Linked DNA regions of Homo sapiens. The protein of the gene in region 1 interacts with the protein of each later gene in a pairwise test. Each region holds a gene or a part of one and is shown in the gene's direction. Other genes may lie near its edges.

Region 1 (7,118 bases):
GCTCTTCAGAAGTTTTTGAGTTTGATGTAATCCCATCTGTCTATCTGCTTTTGTTGCCTGTCCTTTGTGTGGCATATCCATGGAATAATTGCCAAGACCAATGTCATGAAGCTTCTTCCTATGTTTTTGACTGGATTGGTATGTATCATGTTAGAAAGGATCCAATTTCATTCTTTTGCATGTGAAAACTTCTGCACAGCAAAGACAACAATTAACAGAGTGAAAAGGCAACTTACAGAATGACAGAAAATATTTACAAACTGAGTAAATGTGGGAGGAAAGGTGAGGAAGGAGTAAAGGATGACAGGTCTCAGCTTGAATAATTAATAAGGAGGAGAAGAAAATGATGAAGATGCTGAGTTCTGGTGAGTTTTAAATGCCTGAACCACGTCTAGATGGAGCTGCCCAGGAGGTAGTTGAGTGTGAGAGTCAGGAGTTGCGCATTAAAAACCCATCCAGAAGGGGAGGATGAGGACTGACTGCAAATGGACACAGGTGTTTTGGAGGATGAGGACTGACTGCAAATGGACACAGGTGTTTTGGGGGTGATGAAATGTTCTGGAATCAGAAAGTGGTGATGGTTGCCCAACTCCGTGAATATATTAAAAGTCATTTAATTGTGTCCTTTAAAAGGTGAATCTTATGGAATGTGAATTCTATCTCAATTTTAGAAGGAAACGGGTGGGCATTGGCCCCAGCGATGTGAATAAGCTCTCTCTGGAAGAGCACAATGGATCAGAAGAGGCGAGGATGCAGGACAGAACTTGTAACATTTACTAGAAGGGCAGAGACGCTGCCAGGAAACACCAGAGAAGAAAGCCAGGGGCACAAGGAGGCATAAAGACCAAGGGGAAAGAGTTTTGCAAGGCCTGGAAAGCCCAAAGAGGAATGTGCAAGGCAGTGCTGCCCAACGGAAATACAATGTGAGCCACACACATAGCTTAAATTTTCTAGTAGCCTGCTTATAAAAATGAAACAAGAGGTCGGGCACAATCGCTCACACCTATAATCCCAGCACTTTGGGAAGCTGAGGTGGGCAGATCACCTGAAGTCAGGAGTTCGAGACTAGCCTGGCCAACATGGTGAAACCCCATCTCTACTAAAAACACAAAAATTAGCCAGGCATGGTAGTGTGCACCTGTAATCCCAGCTACTCAGGAGGCTGACGCAGGGAGAATTGCTTGAACCCGGCAGGCAGAGGCTGCAATCAGCCGAGATTGTGCCACTGCACTCCAGCCTGGGTGACAGAGTGAGACTCCATCTCAAAAAAAAACAAAAAACAAAAAGAACTTGTAGAAATAAAAATATATAAAGTTGAAATATAAGACATAACTGAAGTGAGACTTCATAAACTCAAGACAGGAGAAATTATTCAGAAAATCAAGACAGAAAACACAAATGACGAATTAAAAACGTAGAGAAACTGAACAAGAAGGTCCAACCTATCTTTAATCAAAACTCCCAGAGGAGAGAATGGGAGAGAGAATGTCTAAAGAGAAAGTAAGTGAGAATTTTCCAGAACCAAAGAAATGCATGAGTCCACAGATATTGGAGTAGGTGCTCCACAAAAACAGGTGCATTAACAAGAAAGTGAGACATGGAATTCCCAAAGAGGGGGATGCCAGTGTGTTGGTGAAGGAAAAGACCAGCCTGTGATCTTGAGGCATGGCTAGGCCAGTGGGAGCAGGAGGATATGGGGCTTCTGAGGAGGTGTCTAAGAAAGGTTTTATTTTATTTCTTTCTTTCTTTATTTTGAGACGGAGTCTTGCTCTGTCACCCAGGCTGGAGTGCAGTGGTGCCATCTCGGCTCACTGCAAGCTCCGCCTCCCGGGTTCACGCCATTCTCCTGCCTCGGCCTCCCAAGTAGCTGGGACTACAGGTGCCCGCTACCACGCCCGGCTAATTTTTGTATTTTTAGTAGAGACGAGGTTTCACCGTGTTAGCCAGGATGGTCTCGATCTCCTGACCTCGTGATCTGCCTGCCTCGGCCTCCCAGAGTGCTGGGATTACAGGCGTGAGCCACCGCGCCTGGCAGAAAGGTTTTAAAGGAATGTTTATTATCTGATGCACATGACTGTGTAGAAAATAATATTGAGAGGGACTTTTCAGTTTTGTTGGAGCATGTGAAATCAATGATCAGTACATAGAAGCCTAAATAAAATTGGGAGGAAATGTAATTTCTCTATTAGCTCTAGAAAGAATACAAGGTTGTACAAGAACAGAATTGGGGTATATTGCACTCCTTAGTTCACCAGGGGATAACATTTACATAATCATAAGAATCAAAACGATACATATCAATTTAACTGAGATCTATAATGATTTTGAAAGAACAAAGGGAAGGGCAGGGGTAAGAATGATAACTCTTCATCTCCCATAATAGAAAGTCGATAGATAAGTTTAAATTTTAAAAAATATTAAGAAACAGCAGTGGATATGGTGTGGATCTGTGTCCCCACCCAAATCGCATGTTGAATAGTAATCCCCAGTTTTGGAGGTGGGGCCCGGTGGAAGGCGATTGGATCATGCGGGTGGCTTCTCATAAATGGTTTATACCATCCCCATGGTACTGTCCTCACAGTAGTGAGTTCTCACCAGATCTGGTTCTTTTAAAGTGTGTGGCACTTCCCTTCTCTCTCCTTTGCTCCTGCTCTGGCCATGTGACCTGCCTGCTGCCACTTTGCCTTCCACCATGATTGTAAGTTTCCTGAGACCACCCCAGAAGCTAAGCAGATGCCAGCATCCTGCTTCCTGTACAGCCTGTGGAACTGTTAGCCAATTACACCTTCTTTTTTTTATTTTTATTTTTATTTATTTTTATTTTTTGAGACAGAGTCTCACTCTGTCACCCAGGCTGGAGTGCAGTGGCTTGATCTCTGCTCACTGTAACCTCCACCTCCTGGGCTCAAGCGATTCTCCTGCCTCAGCCTCCCTAGTAGCTGGTATTACAGGCGCCCGCCACCATGCCCGGCTAATTTTTGTATTTTTGGTGGAGACAGGGTTTCACCATGTTGGCCAGGCTGGTCTCGAACTCCTGACCTCAGGTGATCCACCCACCTTAGCTTCCCAAAGTGCTGGGATTACAGGCGTGAGCCACCGCACCTGTCCTACACCTTCTTTATAAATTACCCAGTCTCAGGTATTATTTATAGCAAGGCAAGAATGGCATAATACAGCAGTAGAATCCTATTATTTCAAAATATGGATGCAAAGGCCTGAAGAAACAGCTAAAAGGCTGGCAAAGGTTTGACTCTAGGATGTGGGGCTCAGGGGCTGTGAGGATGGGGACAGAGAAGGCTGTTTTTATTATGTTTTGTAGAATTGTTTGACTTTTTAAGATTAGATTCAAATAAAACTAAATGGCCAGTGCAAGCTAATACTATCCTTATGGTCCCTCCCTTTTCCTACCTCTCCCTAGCCTTCCTCTATCACTCACATTGGAAAGTTACAAAGGTTTGGGGATGTGAAAACTTTTTTCTTCAGAGAATGCTTGCCTACTGTAGCCTTCTGAAATGCACAGAGGCAGGGCGAGATGGTAGCCTTTGCTTTCCTTAGGCAGCCCCACCATAGTGACATCATATTTGTCGTTCTAGGAAAAGTCATTGGAAATTGAAATGTTTGTTCCTTTGGTAGGATACACCATAAATACCTGCTTGACACTTGGCATTTGTTTCACTTAAAAATTATTTTGTTCTGGCTGGGCACAGTGGCTCATGCCTGTAATCCCAGCACTTTGGGAGGCCAAGGTGGGTGGACCACCTGAGGTCAGGAATTCAAGACCAGCCTGACCAATATGGTGAAACCCCATCTACACTAATAATACAAAAATTAGCCGGGTGTGGTGGCATGCACCTGTAGTCCCAGCTACTTGGGAGGCTGAGACAGGGGAATTGCTTGAACCTGGGAGGCAGAGGTTGCAGTGAGCTGAGATTATGCCACTGCACTTCAGCCTAGGTGACAGAGCGAGACTCCCTCTCAAAAAAAAAAAAAAAAAAAGGCTGGGCGTGGTGGCTCACGCCTGTAATCCCAGCACTTTGGGAGGCCGAGGCGGGCGGATCACAAGGTCAGGAGATCGAGACCACGGTGAAACCCCATCTCTACTAAAAATACAAAAAATTAGCCAGGCGCGGTGGCGGGTGCCTGTAGTCCCAGCTACTCGGGAGGCTGAGGCAGGAGAATGGCGTGAACCCGGGAGGCGGAGCTTGCAGGGAGCCAAGATTGCGCCACGGCACTCCAGCCTGGGTGACAGAGTGAGCCTCCGTCTTAAAAAAAAAAAAAAAAAAAAAAAATTATTTAGTTCTTCCACGTGATACATTGTTGCATTGACTTGACACAGTGAAAGTCATTGGTAAAAATGTCCTGGAAGGAACTCACACAGCCAACATGTTTTTCCTTTCCAGGATTCAGAACTGGAGTTTCCTGAAAGACTATGACCCAATGGTAAGGTAAAATATGTTCCTGCCAAACATACTTGCAATTGAATATTACTCATTCTTTCCATCATTCAACTAACATTTATTGAAGATCTACTCTACACCAGATACTGGATGTGCAGCGATGAGTCAAATACACTCTTGTTTCAAGGAATGCAGGGTCCGTTGGATAGAAAACAGTTACATGAAGCATTTAGAAATGTGTTTCCCTCAGTGTTTCTTAATTTTATTAAGATGAACCAATTGGAAATGACAGGCATCTGTTGCTGAAATGTCTCCCCTGATTGAGGATGGCAGCAATATGTAGTCATATCTGTGTGGCGTGCCCGAGAAGGACAATGAGATTGGGTAAAAATACTTTGTAAACAAATTCCCTGACTCTGGTATCACCACCTCCAATCCATCCTCCACATTGCCACCAGACTAATTTCCCTAAACGGCAGAACTGGCCATGTAGCTCCCCTGATTAAAATGCTTCAGTAAGTCTGAAATTTTCAGGTGGCTTACAAAGCCTCCTGTGATCTAAACCATCTATCTCCCCAGCCTCATTACCCACCCCACACAGACCCCACAACACACTTTTTTTTTTTTTTTTTTTTTTTTTGAGATGGAGTCTTGCTCTGTCGCCCAGGCTGGAGTGCAGTGGTGCAATCTTGGCTCACTGCAATCTCCACCTCCTGGATTCTAGTGATTCTCCTGCCTCAGCCTCCTGAGTAGCTGAGATTATAGGTGCACACCACCATGCCTGGCTAATATTTGTATTTTTAGTAGAGAGGGGGTTTCACTATGTTAGCCAGGCTGGTCTCGAACTCCTGACCTCAATTAGCCAACTGCCTCGGCTTCCCAAAGTGCTGGGATTACAGGCATGAGCCACCACACCCAGCCCCCACAACACTCTTTTATCTATGCCTTTGGGCATGCTCGTCCCCTGCTGGAATGTCCTTCCACCTGGTCAGCCTGATGGACTCCTATTCACTCTTCAAGATCCTGCTCTAGTGCCCCCTCTTCTAGGGAATCTCACCTTCCTGGGCAGGCTTGACCAGATCACTCCTTCCTTTGATTCACCAGCATATCTCACCCGTTATTTTGGTATTCCATGTAATGTAATACTGCAATGCCCAATTTCACCAGCTGTGAACTCCTTAAGAGAAAGGATGAGGCCAGGAATGGTGGCCCATGCCTGTACTTGGGGAGGCTGAGGTGGGAGGATCACCTGGACCCATGAGTTCAAGACCAGCCTGGGCAACATAGGGAGACCCTGTCTCTACAAAAATAACATTATTTTTTAAAAAGAGAAAAGATGAATATGAATTCATCACTGCACCCTATCACAACCCTAGCATTTGCCCCATCCCCCAGAGACCATAAAAGAGTGAACATTCAGTTCATGCTGGATGAATGAATGAATGGAAAGATGGATCTCACTACAAAAAGGATGATCAGCTGGATGCGGTGGCTCACGCCTGTAATCTCAACACTTTGGGAGGCCGAGGCAGGTGGATCACCTGAGGTTGGGAGTTCAAGACCAGCCTGACCAACATGGAGAAACCCCATCTCTACTAAAAATACAAAAATTAGCCGGGTGTGCTGGTGCATGCCTGTAATTCCAGCTACTCGGGAGGCTGAGGCAGGAGAATAGCTTGAACCTGGGAGGCAGAGGTTGCAGTGAGCAGAGATCACGCCATTGCACTCCAGCCTGGGCAACAAGAGCAAAATTCAGTCTCAAAAAAAAAAAAAAAAAAAAAGATGGTCAAAGAACCAACCTGGAAGATGAGCAATATGGAAAGTCACTCGAGGGGGTGGCCATGCTTACCTGGACCCTGCCAGGTTGAGGAAAGTTTTAATGCCTGCATTGTGGACCTGCTGGACTTGTTGCTGTCTATTCTGGAGGGAAAATTCAGCTCATGGGACCTGATATCCCGACCTGTGCATCTGGTCTGGGCTTCCAGCCTGTAAGAGTCTCTCCCTGCTAAGGGCTACATGATAGCAACCTGACTACTGAAATCTGCATCATGGCCAAAGGGTGGAGCCACCTCGGCATGGACTTTGCCAGGTGAAAACCATGATCTCCTTACTTGACAGGTCATGTCATTTCTATTAGACACAGGGTAGCAGAAAGGTAACCCTAAACAGGGGCAGGAAGAGCTGAGGATGTTTTCCCACTTGTCAGATTTTTTTTTTTTTTTTTTTTTTTTGAGATACGGTCTCACTCTGTTGCCCAGGCTGGAGTGAAGTAGCATGATCATGGCTCACTGCAGCCTCAACCTCCTGGGCTCTAGTGATCCTCCCACCTCAGCCTCCTGAGTAGCTGGGGCTTACATGCACGTGCCCCCACACCCAACTAATTTTTGTATTTTTTTGTAGAGACGGGGTCTCACCATGTTGCCCAGGCTGGTCTGAATCTTTCCGCCAAGGCTTCTCAAAGTGCCAGGATTAAAGGCAAGAGCCATGGTGCCTGGCCATCAGATTACATTTAGTCATTCATTCATGCATGCATCCGTTACAGAGTTTACCCAAACGCACGTTCACATATGGCCAAAACAGCACTACTCATAAAAGCCCCAAACTAGAATCAACCCAAGTGTGATCAGTGGTGATACAGGTGAATAACTTGTGTGATATTCACACAGTTCACACCATGGAGTACAGTTCACACCATGGAGTACAGTTCACACCATGGAGTAA
Region 2 (7,706 bases), on another chromosome or scaffold:
ATTTCTCCCCAAGCCTGTGTAATAGCAGTCATGCTGCTACCTTAGTTACACTTTCAGGTGAACAAGGCTGAGTGTTACCCAAAAAAGGTGTCCTGATCCAGATCCTAAAAGAGGGTTCTTGGATCTCGCACAGGAAGGAATGTAAGGCGAGTCACCCAGTGCCATGAGAAGTAACATTTTATTGAAAGCTACTCAGTTACAGAGTAGAGCATTCTCAGAAAGCAAGAGGAGGAATGCCTCTTCTTTGTTTTTATTCGATAGGGGTCTTATCTCTGTAAAAGGTAAGCTAAGCAATGTCTACGTGCGAGTGGGCTAACAGAATGAAAAAAATTAGTACTTTGTTAATTTAAAGAAAGGTATCCTTGGCATTTTCATGCGTAAATACGTGAAAGCATGACTATAATTACCTTAAAGGTGTTTAGCATTATGCAATATTGGAACATCTGGACATTCTACTGTCATAGGAATTTGTCCTTCCAGGTATTATTAAGCTATTTCCTCAGCTGTAGACATCTTAAGATGGAGCTGATTTTTTTGTTTTTTAATCTAGTTTAAGTTCCAGAATACAAGCGCACAACGTGTAGTTGTGCCATGGTGTAGTGTGCCATGGTGGTTTGCTGCACCTATTAACCCATCATCTAGGTTTTAAGCCCGGTATGTATTAGATATTTGTCCTAATGCTCCCCCTCCCCTCACTCCCCCACCCCCCGACTGGCCCTGGTGTGTGTTGTTCCCCTCCCTGTGTCTATGTGTTCTCATTGTAAGATGGAGTTGATTTTAAAATGCTGTCACCCTGGCTCTCCTACACTCCTGTTTCCCTAACTCTAGGATGATGTTGCCTCTATTTTATAAGATTGGACATCTGAAACTGCCATTTTTGAAGGTTAAAAACAGTAAGATATTAGCAATTTGGTATAATTCAACCAGTTGGAACTAAGCAAATGGAGACAAGTGCTTGGCTTAAATGTCTAATAAAAGCAATCACAAAAGCCAGGTGCAGAGGTACATGCCTGTAATCACAGCACTTTAAGAGGCAGAGGTGGGAGGATCACTTGAGCCTAGGAGTTTGAGACCAGCCTGGGCAGCATAGTTAGACCCCTTCTCTACAAAAACTAAAAATTAGCCAGTAGTGTCATGCGCCTGTAGTCTCAGCTACTCAGGAGGCTGAGGTGGGAGGATCACTTGAGCCTCGAAGCTGTAGTGAGCCCTGATCGCACCATTGCATTCCAGCCTGGGCAATACAGCAAGACCCTGTCTCCAAAAGACAAACAAACAACAACAACAACAACAACAACAACAACACACGATCACAAAAGACTATAAGAACCACAACCTTCCACAATGGCCATTGCAGTCTTACACAAAAAAATACTGGGATTATTGCCCTTGTTATTCATCTTTGCAGCAAAGGATACTTATTTTAAAACAATTATGCCATCGTCATTTTTGTCCTTTAAAAATCTTTGTTTTATTTTACCTCCCTGAATACACACATAATTTACTATGGCATGCATATTCCTATTGCAAAATTCAATTTCCAAATAAATATTTTTAAAGAGCCTCTTTCTGTTTGTTATTTAGGTTAACATAAAAAATCTAGAGATGATTTAAAGTAAACCAAAGGATGTGTGTTAAGTTACATGCAAATACTACACCGTTTTATATAAGGGACTGGAGCATGGTCTGATTTTGGTAGCTGAGGGGGTTCTGAAACCAATCCCCCACAGATACTGAGGGATGACTGTACTTTAAAATATCATGTTGTACACAGTAAAAATATACAATTTTATTTGTCAATTAAAAAATAAGCTCCTTGAGGGCAAGAACTGGATTTTATAATTTATTTTTTATGTCTCAGTAAATCCAGTAGACCTCAGCACAGATGTTCAATAAACCTTCCTTAATTATAAACTAAAAGCAAGAAAAAAAGAATGACCACTTTCAGCAAGGCTGGAAAATATGGCTTCCTACTCATGTTAAACTGAGTAATTGCTGTTAAATCAGAACTAGAAATATGATTGGATATACACTGTTAAGTCTTTTTTGAAAACGACTTTTCTGACTTTTGGGGTGCCCAGTGGTCCTTGACTTACCTCTCTTCTTACCCTGCATACCTTCTCTGGATGAGCTCATTCTTTTGCCACCAATTCAACCGATTTCAGTTCTCTCTACTGAGTCCTCACTGGGTTGGTTTTTGTCTTTTCGGTTTTTTTTTTATAGGGAGTCTTACTTTCTCGCCCAGCTTGTACTGCAGGGGCGTGATCACGGCTCACTGCAACCTCCGCCTTCCAGGTTCAAGCGATTCTCCCGCCTCAGCCTCCTGAATAGCTGGGACTACAGGAACAGGCCACCACGCCCGACTAATTTTGTATTTTTAGTGGAAACAGGGTTTCACCATGTTGGCCACGCTGGTCTTGAACTCCTGACCTCAGGTGATCCGCCCGCCTCAGCCTCTCAAAGTGCTGGGATTACAGGCGTGAGCCACTGCGCCCAGCCCTCAATGGCTTTTTCAACTGTCTAGTGGGTATTTCCAGCTGGATGGTTCATAGCAACAAAAGACAAGTCAACCCATTTTCCCCAAACTTTGTCTTCCTTCTCCGCTCTTTATGGAACTAGAAACCAAAGCATTGCTCATTCATTCATTCAACAAGTGTTCTCTGAATACCTACTCTATACTAACCAGGATGTACAAAAGGAAAACCAAAAGCGCAAAAATCCTCGATCTCGTGGAATTTACATTCTAGGAATCTACAGACAAATAAATAAAAAAGTCCTGTTAGATGACAATACATGTTATTAAAAAAAAGACAAGAAGTGTGTGTGTGTGTGTGTGTGTGTGTGTGTGTGTGTGTGTGTGTGTGTGTGTGTGTTGGACAGGGCATCATTCTAGACTTTTCTTCCTCCTCCCTTCCCTTTGATCTGATTAGCAATTGCTTTACCACCTACCTCCTTAGTATTTCACCTTTTCTTACTCATATTCTTCAAACTCATGGTGCTACTTTAATTTACACAGACACAAGAGGTTTCTTTCTCTACCCCTACTACCCCAATTCATTCGCCTCACTTTGGCCAGAGAAACCTATTGAAAATAAAATCTGATCATGTTAGCGGCTGCAATTGTTCAGCACCCAGGCTTGTCAAGCAAGGTACTCTCGAGCGCCCCCGTGGGTGAAGAAAATAACAACATCTATAGCCTGAGAAATAGCAGAAGCTGCCTCTAAAAACAAAATTTATTTTCGAAGGCATATATTTCAAACTTTGAAATCCATGTGAATTTTGCAATTGTTCCATAATATAGCCCTGATAGTTTTAATATATTTTTAATGTTTTAACTAACTTGCCAGCCAAATTATTCTTTTAGCACCACCCCCAACTCCAAAGACCCCCTTCCAAACAGGTGCTGACTTGAGACCGTGACTATAGAGCACTTGTCTCTAAAATGTACAAAATGAAGAGAAATCTCAAGATGTCCCACTGAGATGAAGAAAGAAAGAAGAAAATATGTATGTTTGTATACATGTATACATGTATATATATGTATACACAAAATTAGAAAAGTTAGGGTCTACTGTATAAATTAAATAAGCGTTGACAGTGCTTTTGATTTTAATCTGTATGTGGTACTTTGCCTGCTTAACACCCTTATGTGGATTTCCTGACGGACTTGACATTCCTGTCAGGAAAGCATTGCGTACTTGCTGATTAAAAAGCATCTAAGGGCCGGGAGCGGTGGCTCACGCCTGCAATCCCAGCACGAGGCAGGAGGATCACCTGACGTCAGGAGTTCAAGACCACCCTGGTCAACATGGCGAAACCCCGTCTTTACTAAAAATAGAAAAATTAGCCGGGCATGGTGGCGCGCGCCTGTAATCCCAGCTACTCGGGAGGCTGAGTCAGGAGAATCGCTTGAACCCGGGAGGTGGAGGTTACAGTGAGCCGAGATCCGTCTCAAAAATAAAAAATAAATAATGAAAAAAATTAAAAATTTAAAAATTAAAAAACATTTAAAAAAGCATCTAACTTAGATGGGTAATGGGTCAAAAGAAAGGCAGACTGCCACATGCAGCGCCTCATTTGGATGTGTCTGGAGTCTTGGAAGCTTGACTACCCTACGTTCTCCTACAAATGGACCTTGAGAGCTTGTTTGGAGGTTCTAGCAGGGGAGCGCAGCTACTCGTATACCCTTGACCGAAGACCGGTCCTCCTCTATCGGGGATGGTCGTCCTCTTCGACCGAGCGCGCAGCTTCGGGAGGGACGCACATGGAGCGGTGAGGGAGGAAGGGGACACCCGCCTAGCCAGCCAGATCAGCCGAATCAACCCTGGCGATCAATGGGGTGACAGATGTCGCAGCCAGATCGCCCTCACATCCGAGGTACCCAAGCGGCGCACAAGCTATATAAACCTGAAGGAAGTCTCAACTTTACACTTAGGTCAAGTTGCTTATCGTACTAGAGCTTCAGCAGGAAATTTAACTAAAATCTAATTTAACCAGCATAGCAAATATCATTTATTCCCAAAATGCTAAAGTTTGAGATAAACGGACTTGATTTCCGGCTGTTTTGACACTATCCAGAATGCCTTGCAGATGGGTGGGGCATGCTAAATACTGCAGTCTCCATTGGTGAGGTCGTCCCGGAGCCTCGCCCAGCTCCCGCGCGCTAGAGCCGCCTGCTGGTCTCACCCAGCCGGGACCGCTGACCTGGCGCTTTGTGCGGCTCCAGGCCTCCGAGTGGACTCCAGGTCTGTCTCCCTCCTGCGGTCGCCCCCTTCCTCGCCCTTTCTCTCTTCTTTTTTTTCCCTCCCCTTTACTCTCTGAGTCTCACTCTCGCATTCTTCCCTCACTCCCCCAGTTCAGTCCTTCTCTTGTCTTTTCTTCCTCTTGTCCTTTGTCCTCCTGCTCCATCCAGTCTGGGCAGAGGTGGGCCCCTTGGCTGGAGCTGGGGTCCTTCTTGGCTCAGTGTGCGTATTTTTTTTTAAACCCCTTCTGCGGAGTCTGAATGCATTGGTGGAAGGTGGGCTCGGATCGTCCCCGGGCCTGGCTGGGCTGCCGCTACGCCCCTGCATGGGCTGAGCGGGGAAGACGAGCATGGGAGAGTGCGATCTCAGATGGCCAAGCCCTGGCCCCCGGCTCGTTTTACAAGGCCGGGGGCTCATCTCCCTGTAGGGGTGGTGGACACGCGGGACCCGGGGGGCGCAGCCACCGCATGCGTGACGGTGGACGCACATTTTGCAGACAGTAGTAGTACTCGGCCTGTTCACCTTCCAGTTGCCGTGATAATAAAATATGATGATGTATGTAAAAGCATGAATACTTGAAGAGCTTCCAGTGGCTGTGCGATTTTCCTTCGCTACCCTCTTCAACGCCTGCCACCCCCTATCCCCCAGCTGAATTTGGAAAATCTGAGATTCTCGAGGTCAAAATATATAATATTCTGAATTTGTGAAATCCCGTACTGCTAGCACATATGTTTTTACAACAAATGGCCCCAGCTTCCCAAGATCCAGGATAAGAAGTCATAAATAGAAATCATATAAAAGCCAAGGTTTTTTTCTCCATGTTTTAAAATGGTGGTTTTTTTTTCTTGAGTGAGGGAAAATGCAGCAACAAAAATAAAGAACAGTTTCCCGTGCCAAAATCCTGAATATTCATTTCGCCCCTGAGCACTGGGTTGAAGACGCGAAATTGGGACTGTTGGTCTGCGACGAGCTGCTGCATTTGTATTTCAGAAAGCCTGAAAAGCTATCATGGCAGCAAGGCCCAAGCTCCACTATCCCAACGGAAGAGGCCGGATGGAGTCCGTGAGATGGGTTTTAGCTGCCGCCGGAGTCGAGGTACCTTATATGCTGTTTCTTCACGGATTTGTCATACAGCTTTTGAGACCTTTGAAAGAAAAATACGTTTTGAAGCACCGTTCAGTTCTAGTTCTCGTCCACCAAAATCACAGGCACGCTTCACTGAGTCAGATACCATCCCTGAAGGGATTTTTCTTTATAATTAGAACGTAGTTGATGGAATTCTATTTTCCTTTTGACTTTTACTTAATTATTGGCTTCTGATCTAGCACCAGTGAATATTTATTAATAAGAAGAAAGGAAATTTACCTGAAAATTGTCAGTTACTCTGAGCTCTTATTAATTATGCATTCTCAGGGTAAATTTCTTGTTTTCTTCAGTGGCTTCAAACTGGCAGCCTTGGTATCTTGCTTACATATGTGTGTGTGTCTGTTTTTGTTTTCGTTCTGTTCTTTTAGCTTCTTAGTATGGAAATTTTCAAATACCAATAAATGTAGAGAGAACATTGCCATGAATTCTATGTACTCATCACCCGACTTCAGCAATCATCAGCTCTATGCTAATCTTGTTTCATCTATCACCTCCCTTCCCTTGTTTTGTGGGAGTATTTTAAAGCAAAATCCAAACATCATAACATTTCATCTGGGAGTTCCTCAACATTTTCCTCTAACAGATGAGGATTTTAAAATGTAACAATATTATTATCACATCCAACAAAATTAGCAATTCTTTGTCATCTAACCTTCAGTCTGATTGTCTCAAACAGGCATTTTGTTTGTTTGTTTGTTTTTATAGTTTGTTTTAGTTTGGATCTAGACATTGGTCTACGCATTACATTTAAAATGGTTATGTTTCTTTCGGTATTTTAAAAACCTGTAAGTTTCCTCTTCATTTTTTACAAATTTATATTTGGGAATATTTTCAGATTTATAGAAAAGTTGTAAAATAATACAGTCCCTCATTCAGTCTCCCTTAATGATAACATCTTACATCACCATGTCATATTACGAAATTAACATTGGTGCATGACTAACTAAACTACAGACTTTATTCAGATTTCACTGTTTTTTCTACTAATGTTCTGGGTTTTTTTTTGACGGAGGCTGGCTCTGTAGCCCAGGCTGGAGTGCAGTGGTGTGATCTCGGCTCACTGCAACCTCCGCCTCCCAGGATCAAGCAATTCCCCTGCCTCAGCCTACCTAGTAGCTGGGACTACAGGTGCACACCACCACGACCAGCTAATTTTTGTATTTTTTTAGTAGAGACAGGGTTTCTCCATGTTGGCCAGGCTGATCTTGAGCTCCAGACCTCAAGTGATGCACCCACCTGGGCCTCTCAAAGTACTGGGATTACAGGTGTGAACCACCACGCCCGGCCCTTTGCTAATGTCCTTTTACTATCCCGCGATCCAACATTATATTTATTCATCCTGTTTCCATAGTTGCCAACAATCCATGACAATTTCCCAGTCGTTTCCTTCATTTTACCATCTTGACGGTTTTGAAAAGCACTGGTCAGATATTTTTGTAGAATCCTCTACAAATTGGGTTTATCTTGTTTTTTTCATGATTAGACTGAGGTTATGGGTTTGGGGAAAGAATGCCACAGAGGTGAAGTATGTTCACGTCATCATATTAGGGGTTACGTATCAACATGAGTTGTCACTGGCAGTATTAACCTGGATCACATGGTTAAGGTAGTCTCTGCCAGGTTGCTGCATTTTAAAGTTACTATGTTTCCTTGTATTCTTCTGAAGCAGATCATGAAGTCCAGCCCACATTCAAAATGATGAGAATTAAGCTCTACCTCCTGGGTGAGGGAGTATCTACATTTGGAATTTTTATATAAGGAAGATTTATCTCCACTCATTTCTTCAGTTATTCAATTCTTTGTGTCACTATAGACCTAAGT
Region 3 (4,247 bases), about 16 Mb from region 1:
GGAAAGCAGGTTAATTGTCATGGGACATGCAGGAGGTAGAAAAGGAGGCGGTGGTGGAACATGGTGGCTCATACTTTTAATCCCAGCACTTTTGGAGGCTGAGGTGGGAGGATCACTTGAGCTCAGGAGTTCGAGACTAGCCTGGGCAACGTGGTAAAACCCTATCTCTATGAAAAAATAAAAATTATCTGGGTATGGTGGCACATGCCTGTGGTCCCAGCTACTCTGGAAGCTGAAGTGGGAGGATTGCTTGAGCCCAGGAGGTTGAGGCAGCAGTGAGCTGTGATTGTGCCACTGTACTCCAGCCTGGTTGGCACAGCAAGACCCTGTCTCAGAAAAAAGAAAGAAAGAAAATAAGGCAGAATCGTTAGAGGAATCCTGGGAAATTCGGTGAATTCAGTGATTGTGGGCAAAGGAAATTGTGATACTAGGCTTGTGAAATAAAAAAATGGTGAATATTGATCACATTGGGTAAGTTTGGGAAGAGAGAAGCTAAATTTGGCAAGATTTAGAAAAGAAGATAGGCAGTGAGTTGACTAATAAAGCAGAGAGGTAGAAACTAAGGAAAAAGAAAGTGTGGGGCCGGGCGCGGTGTCTCATGCCTGTAATACCGGCACTTTGGGAGGCTGAGGCGGGTGGATCACGAGGTCAGGAGATTGAGACCATCCTGGCTAACATGGTGAAACCGTCTCTACTGAAAATACAAAAAATTAGCCGGGCATGGTGGTGGGCACCTGTAGTCCCAGCTACTCGGGAGGCTGAGGCAGGAGAATGGCGTGAACCCGGTAGGCAGAGGTTGCAGTGAGCTGAGATTGCGCCACTGCACTCCAGCCTGGGCGACAGAGCGAGACTCCGTCTCAAAAAAAAAAAAAAAAAAAATTGTGAACATTAAAAAAGAAAGCTTGTGGTTGGAGAGCAGAAAAATAATTAAAACCAGAAAGGCAGTGGATGGTATCTTTCATATAATATCTTACAGTTTTTGAAGCCCTTTCAGGTGCATTTTTCAATATATTGTTTTCTCAGCAAGTGCTGAGCACCTACTATGTACAAAGCCTTGTGCTAAGTAGAATGAGAGCTATAAAGATGAACACACTGGGGGCTTGCCAGATGCCTGCTCCAGTTCCTTGTTTCCTTTTCTAGGAGTTCATTCAAAAGTGCCTGCAGTCTGAGCCTGCTCGCAGACCAACAGCCAGAGAACTTCTGTTCCACCCAGCATTGTTTGAAGTGCCCTCGCTCAAACTCCTTGCGGCCCACTGCATTGTGGGACACCAACGTGAGTCGTCTTGGCCCTATGGGGAATAGTCTTCCAATCTGGAGCCCTGTAACTATCACTGGCATGCTTGTTTTCCTCTTTATTTCCAAAGGGATTCTTTTTTTTTTTTTTTTTTTTTTTTTTTTTTTTTTTTGAGACAGAGTCTCACTCTCTCTCAGGCTGGAGTGCAATGGCTTGATCTCAGCTCATTGCAACCTCCAGCTCCCAGGCTCAAGCGATTCTTGTGCCTTAGCCTCCCGAAGAGCTGGGATTACAGGCATGTGCCACCATGCCTGGGTAATTTTTGTACTTTTAGTAGAGATGGGGTTTCGCCATGTTGGCCAGGCTGGTCTTGAACTGGCGTCAAGTGATCTGTCCGCCTCGGCTTCCCAAAGTGCTGGGATTACAGGCATGAGCCACTGTGCCAGGCCTCCAAAGGGATTCTTTACCCCTTTGCCTGCATGCCTTCTTTGACATTTAATCTGACTATCCCTTCATAATATCCCACTCCATCATGCCCTCCAGACATGATCCCAGAGAACGCTCTAGAGGAGATCACCAAAAACATGGATACTAGTGCCGTACTGGCTGAAATCCCTGCAGGACCAGGAAGAGAACCAGTTCAGACTTTGTGAGTAACTGAGAGGGTCTGAAAGGGGCAGATTGGTCACGACCACTCTTGAGGCTCTGTAAACTGTCCATTCTCTGGGAATGCTTGAATTTGCTATTTTGCTTGTTTCTTTCCTTCCATCTCCTTTCTCTTTTCTCGTCCAGGTACTCTCAGTCACCAGCTCTGGAATTAGATAAATTCCTTGAAGATGTCAGGTGAGAGCAGAGTGAGAAGCAGGCTTTCTTGAGGAAGCAGGCGGGGTTGGGTATCCTAAGGCGTTCACAGAGCCCATGTGACCTGTCTTCATCTCCCTCCAGGAATGGGATCTATCCTCTGACAGCCTTTGGGCTGCCTCGGCCCCAGCAGCCACAGCAGGAGGAGGTGACATCACCTGTCGTGCCCCCCTCTGTCAAGACTCCGACACCTGAACCAGCTGAGGTGGAGACTCGCAAGGTGGGGGCTGTGTGGGTGTGGATTGTCTCCATGGTTGTGGTGGAAGGGAGAGAGGACATCTCAAATAAGGCTCTATCCTTTAGAGAAAATGCTCCCTAGCAGCCATGCCCTATGGGCTCGAAAGACGTCTAGGTATTGGGTTTTTTATGGACAGGTCTCTAGAGTGACCCTCTCTTCCCTCCCTAGGTGGTGCTGATGCAGTGCAACATTGAGTCGGTGGAGGAGGGAGTCAAACACCACGTAAGGCTCAGGGCTAGGGTTGCGCAGGGCTAGTAGCCAGAGGGTAGGGAAGAAAAGTCTCATTTTCTGACTGTCCTATTCTCCAGCTGACACTTCTGCTGAAGTTGGAGGACAAACTGAACCGGCACCTGAGCTGTGACCTGATGCCAAGTGAGTCTCTCCTTTCCCTCAGAGGATGGAGAGTCTATGAGCCTTATCTTTTAGGGACATATTCAGGGGTGGGGGAGGTGACAAGGCAGTAACACATTGACTCACATAGAATGACTATCTTAGACCCTAAAGCAGTGGGTGGATCTGACTGACAGTTTAGCCCTAGTGGGGCTGTCTGAAGGGCCCCAGGTCCCTCAGTCCCGTACTGTACTCACCCCCTCCTGTTTCTTTGTCAGATGAGAATATCCCCGAGTTGGCGGCTGAGCTGGTGCAGCTGGGCTTCATTAGTGAGGTGAGGTTTCTGCCTTCATCTGCCCTGGCTGCCCCCATGCCTTCTCTTCTCTCAGCCCCCATCTTACTGAGCTCTTCTCCCCCAGGCTGACCAGAGCCGGTTGACTTCTCTGCTAGAAGAGACCTTGAACAAGTTCAATTTTGCCAGGAACAGTACCCTCAACTCAGCCGCTGTCACCGTCTCCTCTTAGAGCTCACTCGGGCCAGGCCCTGATCTGCGCTGTGGCTGTCCCTGGACGTGCTGCAGCCCTCCTGTCCCTTCCCCCCAGTCAGTATTACCCTGTGAAGCCCCTTCCCTCCTTTATTATTCAGGAGGGCTGGGGGGGCTCCCTGGTTCTGAGCATCATCCTTTCCCCTCCCCTCTCTTCCTCCCCTCTGCACTTTGTTTACTTGTTTTGCACAGACGTGGGCCTGGGCCTTCTCAGCAGCCGCCTTCTAGTTGGGGGCTAGTCGCTGATCTGCCGGCTCCCGCCCAGCCTGTGTGGAAAGGAGGCCCACGGGCACTAGGGGAGCCGAATTCTACAATCCCGCTGGGGCGGCCGGGGCGGGAGAGAAAGGTGGTGCTGCAGTGGTGGCCCTGGGGGGCCATTCGATTCGCCTCAGTTGCTGCTGTAATAAAAGTCTACTTTTTGCTAAAAGCGTCGTGTGTTCGCGCCTTTCCCGCCAGGGGGAGCGGGCCCGGGGCGGAGGCGGGGCCCAGGTGGGAGGGGGACCCGGGACGGAGGCGGGGCCCAGGTTGGGGCGGGGCCGGGCCCAGGTACAGCGGCCCTGCGGCTGGCGCGGCGGACGGGATGAGGCGCTGCAGTCTCTGCGCTTTCGGTAACTTCCGGGCCCTGGCGTCTCGTCTCCTTACCCTGGGGCTACCCTTGCCCCGTCCTACTGCCCGCGGTTAACCCGCCGCGAGCCGCCTCTCCCCTCCCCGCCCGACTCAACCCTGCCCTCCCCCGTGCTTTGCAGACGCCGCCCGGGGGCCCAGGCGGCTGATGCGTGTGGGCCTCGCGCTGATCTTGGTGGGCCACGTGAACCTGCTGCTGGGGGCCGTGCTGCATGGCACCGTCCTGCGGCACGTGGCCAATCCCCGCGGCGCTGTCACGCCGGAGTACACCGTAGCCAATGTCATCTCTGTCGGCTCGGGGCTGCTGGTGAGCGCGGCAGGCGACCCGGGCGGGGGCCGGGCTCCCGGAGAGCCCAGCAGGCCAAAGGCTTTGTGTCTTCCACAGAGCGTTTCCGTGGGACTTGTGGCCCTCCTGG

The links.
Region 2: the proteins of CIMIP5 (region 1) and GSTA4 interact in binary tests that used the Homo sapiens proteins (3 or more experiments, as listed by UniProt).
Region 3: the proteins of CIMIP5 (region 1) and NRBP1 interact in binary tests that used the Homo sapiens proteins (3 or more experiments, as listed by UniProt).

What each region holds. Positions count from the first base shown.
Region 1 is NC_000002.12:11,136,110-11,143,227, forward strand, and holds part of CIMIP5 (ciliary microtubule inner protein 5), read left to right. Parts: intron 1-4,400; coding exon 4,401-4,440; intron 4,441-7,118.
Region 2 is NC_000006.12:52,992,285-52,999,990, reverse strand, and holds the start of GSTA4 (glutathione S-transferase A4), read left to right. Parts: upstream 1-4,706; 5' UTR 4,707-4,742; intron 4,743-5,589; exon of another isoform or gene 5,590-5,729; 5' UTR 5,730-5,747; coding exon 5,748-5,834; intron 5,835-7,706. UniProt on the Homo sapiens protein: Conjugation of reduced glutathione to a wide number of exogenous and endogenous hydrophobic electrophiles. This isozyme has a high catalytic efficiency with 4-hydroxyalkenals such as 4-hydroxynonenal (4-HNE).
Region 3 is NC_000002.12:27,438,626-27,442,872, forward strand, and holds the end of NRBP1 (nuclear receptor-binding protein), read left to right. Parts: intron 1-1,140; coding exon 1,141-1,273; intron 1,274-1,777; coding exon 1,778-1,883; intron 1,884-2,026; coding exon 2,027-2,077; intron 2,078-2,179; coding exon 2,180-2,315; intron 2,316-2,501; coding exon 2,502-2,555; intron 2,556-2,641; coding exon 2,642-2,705; intron 2,706-2,941; coding exon 2,942-2,997; intron 2,998-3,082; coding exon 3,083-3,187; 3' UTR 3,188-3,634; downstream 3,635-4,247. Other genes in the region: KRTCAP3 (keratinocyte-associated protein 3), read left to right, coding at 3,788-3,815, 3,954-4,138, 4,217-4,247. UniProt on the Homo sapiens protein: Required for embryonic development. Plays a role in intestinal epithelial cell fate and proliferation, thereby involved in the architectural development of the intestine potentially via the regulation of Wnt-responsive genes.